Linked DNA regions of Homo sapiens. The protein of the gene in region 1 purifies or fractionates together with the protein of each later gene. This does not show direct contact. Each region holds a gene or a part of one and is shown on either strand. Other genes may lie near its edges.

What was found. Proteins that work in one complex are often made in the same cells at the same time.
Region 2: the proteins of MANSC1 (region 1) and PTPRF purify together in Homo sapiens (affinity purification with mass spectrometry; 2 studies listed by BioGRID and IntAct, with this or other methods). This does not show direct contact.

The regions. Positions count from the first base shown.
Region 1 is NC_000012.12:12,333,177-12,336,825, reverse strand, and holds part of MANSC1 (MANSC domain-containing protein 1 isoform 1 precursor), read left to right. Parts: intron 1-3,649.
Region 2 is NC_000001.11:43,533,735-43,537,383, reverse strand, and holds part of PTPRF (receptor-type tyrosine-protein phosphatase F isoform 1 precursor), read right to left. Parts: intron 1-3,649. UniProt on the Homo sapiens protein: Possible cell adhesion receptor. It possesses an intrinsic protein tyrosine phosphatase activity (PTPase) and dephosphorylates EPHA2 regulating its activity.

The DNA of each region.
Region 1 (3,649 bases):
GGTTCTGGCCATGTGGTAGCTCATGCCTATAATTCCAGCACTCTGGGAGGTGGGAGGATCACTTGAGCCCAGAAGTTAGAGACCAGCCTGGGCAACATGATGAGACCTCATATCCACAAAAAATTAAAAAAATTAGCCGGGCATGGTGGCATGAGCTTGTAGTCCCAGCTACTTGGGAGGCCAAGGCAGGAGAATTCCTTGAGACCAGGAGGTCAAAGCTGCAGTGAGCTGTGTTCATGCCACTACACTCTAGCCTGGGTGACAAAGTGAGATACTATCTCTAAAAAAAAAATAGGAAAACAAGGTTCTCCCTTCTGGAACTTATGTTTTAGGGGAGAGAGACAATAACCATAATAAATAAATAATCAAGAAAAATATAGTCACAAGTGCTATGCACAGAATTGAGACAGGACGGTATAATAGACAATCAGTAAGTAAAGTTGTAACCCCTAAACTGAGATCTGAATAGTGAGGAGCCAGATGTGAGGAGATCAGGGGAAGACCTTCCAAGTCCAAGGTCCTCAGGCAGAATGCTTTGGAGTGTTTGAAAAACCAACACTCCAATCCCAGCTGGTTGACTCATTGTGAAATACGCAGAGAGTGATATGCAAAACGGTGGGGAGGGCCAGATCACATAACACCTTGTAAGTCATAGGAGGGAGTTTTTTTGTTTGTTGTTGTTGTTTTTGAGACAGAGTCTCACTCTGTTGCCCAGGGTGGAGTGCAGTGGCGCGATCTCAGCTCACTGCAACCTCCGCCTTAGGAGGGGCATATGCCACTACACGTGGCTAATTTTTGTATTTTTAGTAGAGATAGGGTTTCACCACATTGGCCAGGCTGGTCTCGAACTCCTGATGTCGGGTAATCCACCCACCTCGGCCTCTCAAAGTGCTGGGATTACAGGCATGAGCCTCCGTGCCCGGCCGGGAGTTTTTAGGTGTGTGGTGGGAAGCTGTTGGGAGTTTTATTTTTATTTTTTTTTTGAGATGGAGTCTCACTCTTTTCACCCAGGCTGGAGTTCAGTGATGCAGTGTCGGTTCAGTGCCACCTCTGCCTCCCAAGTTCAAGTGATTCTCCTGCCTCAGCCTCCTGAGTAGCTGGGACTACAGGCAAGCATCACCATGCCTGGCTAATTTTTGTATTTTTAGTAGACATGGTCTCGCCATGTTGGCCAGGCTGGTCTCAAATTCCTGACCTCCTGACTCATGTATGTAATCCCAGCACTTTGGGAGGCTGAGGCGGGCAGATCACAACGTCAGGAATTCGAGACCAGCCTGGCCAACATGGTGAAACCCCGTCTCTACTAAAAATACAAAAATTAGCCGGGTGTGCTGGTGCGTGCCTGTAATCCCAGCTACTCAGGAGGCTGAGGCGGGAGAATTGCTTGAACCCAGGAGGCAGAGGTTGCAGTGAGCTGAGATTGCGCCACTGCACTCTAGCCTGCACGACAGAGCAAGACTCTGTCTCGGGGAGAAGAAAAAAAAAAGGTGATTTCTCAAAGCTCACCGTAGCCGCCCTCTTGGGAATGGACAGTGACACAGCAGCAAAGTGGAAATGGAAAGACTGGTTAGGAGGCGCAGGTGAGATCTGGGTGAAGAAACAGGGAGTGGCGGGCGAGATGGAGAGAGTAGTGGACATATGGGCTATTCCGAAGTAGAGTTGACAGGACTTGCTGGTGGTGTGGGTCTGGGGAACCAGAAAAAAAGAACCATCAAGGCCAAGTCCTAGTTTTTGCCTTGAGCATCCAGATGAATGGTGACACCATTTGCTGCACTGGGGGAAACTTGAGTAGTTTTAGGGTTGTGGAATGGAATCTAGGTGGAGTGGAATCTAGGGTTCTCTCTTGACTGCATTAAGTATGAGGGGCTTCGGGGAATGATACTGCCCAGGGTGCCTGCGTGTTGACACTGCTTTGCCCCCTAGCTGAGGCTGTGTCTGAGTTTTGTTCATGTGCCAGGGAAGCCTGATGGGTCAAACATCCTCTCAAACAGGAGCGTGAAGCACAGAGTATTGTGTAAATAATTGTTGTTAGGATACGATGATAGAAATTACAGCTGAATTTGTTTTCTAATACTTCTGGAGTGTTGTTACTTTTGTAATGCACATATAAAAGAGCATGTATGGGATGAAGTTCCTTGCCAATGGGAACGGAAAAAAGGGAACTTGGCATGTGCATAAATCTTTTTAGGGCGAGTGTGAAGGTAATGAAGTGAAATTAGAATTAAACTGTTCTTGTGGCAGCCACCAGGGGGCGTTGCCGGCCCCTGAGCAGGTTGATGGACACCTAGGGGCAACGTGGCACCAACCCCGGACATAGTATGCAAAGGACTGTTTATATCTACAGGATGTGTGCAAGTTGTGTTTGTAATTCTGTGTATGAATCTGTCCATGTTGATGAATTCATATTACCCCATTAAAAATGAATTATCTGCCTCCTGCCTGGAGTGAAATTAAATACAGATTATCTGTTTGGTGGTTTGTTTCTGGAAGAACTCTATTTCTTTTTCTTTTCTGTCTCTCTCTCTCTTTTTTTTTTTCTTTTTTTTTAAGGCAGCATCTCACTCTGTTGCCCAGGCTGCAGTGCAGTGGCGCGATCATGGCTCACTGCAGCGGCGCGATCATGGCTCACTGCAGCCTCCACCTCCTGAGCTCAAGCAGTCCTCTCCATTCAGCCTCCCAAGTATTTGGGACTACAGATAATGCACCACCATGCCAGGCTAATTTTTTAAAATGTTTTGTAGCAATGGGGGGGTCTCAGTATGTTGCCCAGGCTGGTCTCAAACTCCTGGCCTCAAGCAATCATCCTGCCTCGGCCTCTCAAAGTGCTGGGATTACAGGCATGAGCCACCGTGCCCAGCCTCTATTTCCTATATCCCATTGACTAATATTTACGGACCAAGAGTTTGAAAGATGACAGTGGATTCTGTTCATTCTCTAAAGCCATTGCAGTTTGGTATTTAATCTTTTATTGTTGTTGTTGGCAGCTTCATGGCATGTCATTTTTACCAAGGACTGGAAGAATAGGAGAATTCAGACATAGAATAAATTGGGAGTCTGTTTGCTCAGCTGGGGTCCCAGTAATAGTCAGTCTCTCATTTTTCAACTCAGTGAAGTCGTTTGAAAATAAAACTCCAAAGAGGAGTTAAGGGCGCTGAGCTGCTTTGCAGCTCCCTTTGTGGCTCATCTCTGCGTGACTGAGAGGAAGCACCATGCCCCAATGGCAAACATGAGTGGGTGAGGCGAATGGAGCAGGTGTGGAGGATCCCTTTGTGGTTCTAGGACCTCTGCCAACAGAGGAATCTTATCAAGAAGTGGGACTGGCCCTAGCTTTGCTTTATTTATGAGCTTGCATGCTTGAGAAAGAAAACAGCTGTTTTGGCCATTCTTGTCAATGGCCATATTTAAGTTCTGATTTCACACACATCACAGAGTGTTTACTTAAACAGTCTTTTTCTTTTTTAACTTTAAAATGAATTATAGGCCAAGTATGATGGCTCACACCTGTAATTCCAGCACTTTGGGAGGCTGAGGTGGGCGGATTGCTTGATTCCAGGAGTTCAAGACCAGCCTGGGCAACATGGCAAAATTCTGTCTCTACAAAAAATACAAAAATTAGCTGGGCATGGTGGCATGGCATTGTGGCCCCAGC
Region 2 (3,649 bases), on another chromosome or scaffold:
ATGCCAGTCTTCAAAGAAGCTTCAGAAGCAATATTTATTTTTGACTTTCTCTACTCTATAATTTTTAAAATGAAGGCGTGCCCCTGGATGCCTCCTCCGCTGGCACACATGCAGCGACAGAGCCCAGCCCCTTCCTTCTAGAGCCATTATTGAGTCCCCACCAGCGTGGGTACCATCCTGGGTGGGGGTGGGGGTCAGACACACCCATACCACCTCATCACCACTTCACGGAAGCTCAGCTGTTTGGCCTACTCGACGCAAGCTGCACCTTGCAGCAGGCTTCTCACCTCAAGCCCCCACATGCACAGTGATCCCCACCCCACACCACTCTGCCACCTTGGCTCCTCCTATAACGGACACAAAGAAACCACAGTGGGAGGGTGGTGCGTGGGAATGTCCTCACCGGCCCAAGACTGACCCTCATCATGAAATCAAGGACACACCTCTGCACCTGGGAATTACCCTCAAGTTGCACTAACCACCTCTGCCAATATGGGGGTACTCTCACCGACTGAAGGCCATCCCAACTGACCCAAGATGGCCCTCGCCAGCTTGGCGACCCAGCCTCCACTGCCCCACCTACCTGCACCAGAACCCGCAGCCCTCTCTGCATGCTTCCCTCCCCGCTCCCCAAGCTGAGTTTCCAGCAGCTGCTGCTCCCAGCATACAGGCTGCCCAGCAGGTCTGGCCAGACAAACCAGCTTCCAGGCCCCAAACTTAAAGGCCCATTTGTCTAGAGATGCCCGCAGGGCCTCACAGTATTCAAGTGAGGTTTTTGGCTGCACCATTGTGCAGAGACCCTGGGCAGAGGGGCAGAGTCCAAGGCAGGGAACTGGGTAATGGGAAAGGCCCCCCAAGCTGGCCAGGCGCTGCTGCCACACCCAGCCACAGCAGGGTCTCGTGCTTGGAGACTGAGACAGGCCCTACATGGAGCAGAAGCCACACCTGGAAAGAGGTGTGTACCCAAAGTGGCCAGGGGCCATTTTAGAAGACTAAACATTTGCAAAGACCCTGAGGCACACAGAACAGCATGAGGGCAGGATCCTAGAAAAGCCAAACAGTAACTTTGAACCACGTCAGTCTGGGATCAAACTGACCTCAAAACAACCTATCAGGCAACCAAATAAAGACTCAGATTCACCAACTGCAGCTCCCAGAACCCACTCTACACTCACACTGGGACAGAGCCCAGAACAACCAGGACAACCAGATACACCCCCAGAACAGAGCCAGAGCTGACATCTGGAAGGTTGACTAGAAAGCTACTCAGAAAGGGCCTGAATGGTTCAGGACCCAAGTTAGAAATCACACTGCTGGCCAGTCACAGTGGCTCACCCCTGTAATCCCGGCACTTTGGGAGGCCAAGGCAGGTGGATCACTTGAGCCAGGAGTTCAAGAGCAGCCTGGACAACATGACAAAACCCTGTCTCTAAAAAAATACAAAAATTAGCCAGGTGGGACTACACCTGTAGTCTCAGTTACTCAGGAGGCTGAGGTGGGAGGATCACTTGAGCCCAGGAGGTGGAGGCTGCAGTGAGCCACGACTGCACCACTACACTCCAGCCTGGGCAACAGAGTGAGATTCTGTTTCAAACCAAAGAGAAAAAGAAAGAAATCACACTGCTTGGCACCCAGGAAGGCCTCAGAAGGGGTGAAGTCCACAGTCATGTCCAATATCAAGAAAGAAAGCCCTTGGGGCCAACGCAGGGCTGGCCCCAGTAGGGTTCCCCATCATCTGCCAGGCCTGAAACCTGGCCCGGCAGTGGGTCAGGAGCAAGTCGATGATACCTAGGGGAATGCAGGCACAGCTGCCCTCTGGAGCAACCCCCAGAATGCCCCTGTGGCTGCACCAGGAACAGTCCCCAGAAACAGCAGCTAAAATACTGCTAAGGAGCTAAAACCAGAGTTCTCAGACCTAGAAGTCACGGTCACACAGAGACATGGTGCATCTGGACCACAGAGGCAGATGGTGGCAGAAAGAGCCTCAGTAGAAGCCCAGGGCCCAGGGAGGGTGGGAGGAAATGGAGAACTCAATACCCCAAGGCTGCCCCTTCTCAAAATTCCCTTCCACCTACCCCAAACATGGAGTCTCTTCTGCAGGCCTCACCTCTAGTCTTCTCAAGCCCACCCACCTGAAGGTCAAACACCTGAGCAACACAAACAATCCCATCGATAACAATAGGGGCAGGCACCCCCTTTGTTGAGCTCCTTGACCTGCTAATCTCAGCTCAGAATTGCAGCAACCTTAGGCAGACAGGGACCCTAACCTTAGCAGTCTATCTTCTCATTAAAGGCAACCTCATGTGACCCCTGATGGGAGGGTGGGTTTACACCATCCCAGTTGAGGATGATTACAGTAACTGCAAACACAGACAACAGTACTCACTAGATGCCAAGCCCTGTGCTACACACACTTTATGCATACTATCTTTAATCCTCATAACAACCCTTATAAGGCACGGGTTTTTATTATAATCATTTGACAAATGAGGAAGCGGATTCAGAGAGGTTAAGCCACTTGCTTAAAGTCACGCTGCTAGTAAACAGAGTCCAATCCTAGCAGTATAAAACTCGAGCTCTTCACCACTGTCGGAGGTTACTTTCTCTCGAGGTGCACAGCTCTATGGTCTCTCATACAGCTCTCGCTTCTCTTGGTCCGACCGACATTTCTCTCCCATACCCTCACACCAAAGCCCCTCCTTGATGTGCCTCCCCCACTGAGCCTCCAATGTCCCAAGTACCTCAAGGGCCACATGTCCAACTAAGAGCTTATTCTCTGCCCCTCCTCACCAAGTCCCTAACACAGTGAAGCTTCAGGGCCTTCAGTGAAGGCCCGCTCAACCACTCCGAGGAACCTGGACTCCTTCCTCTTCCTCTCCTTCACTCCCACATCCAATAAATCATTCTGTCCTGACAAGTGTACCTTCAAGATGGCACCATGCTACCACCTATCAAAGCCAGCATCTTCTCTCACCTTACTTACCTGCACCCTCTTGCCCCACTGGGCATCCTGTCTCCATCCTTTTCCCATAGCCACAGAGCATTTTCTGGAAACATAAACCTGACCACAGCACACTCCACCCTCCCTATCCAAGCTTTAAACCTTTGGTGTTTTCTCTCTGGGTTCTCAGAGTAAAATTACAGGTACTTAACAGGGCATTCAATGCCCTCTGTGATCTGCCACATCTCTGAATACTTCACAAGTGACAACACCTCCCAGTCTTTATTCATACTGGTTTTTATCTATCTCAAGTCCTTTCTCTCTTCTTCAAACTCCTACTCATCCCTCCAAACCTAGTTCACATCACTTCTTCTTGGTCTCCTCTGGGACTCACCTCACCCTGACCTCCGAACTCTCCCCCGTCTCTTGATGAACTCTTGCAATGTTCTAACCCAACTCAGAACCGCAGCTGCTTTAGTTGAGCAGATGCCTGAACCTTAGGGGTGGGCTGCCTCTTCTACATAGCTGTTAGTCCCAAAGGAAGAAAGGCAGCCGGGGCCGAAAGCGCCTACCCCGGGGTCTGGCACACAGTCAGCAATCAATGACAGGTAACTGAATTGCTTTTGCAATCCCATGGTGCAACCTGCTCCCCCAAGGACCACGAGCTTCTCGAGGGTAGGGCCCTGACTGCAAGCTGGAACCAAGCAC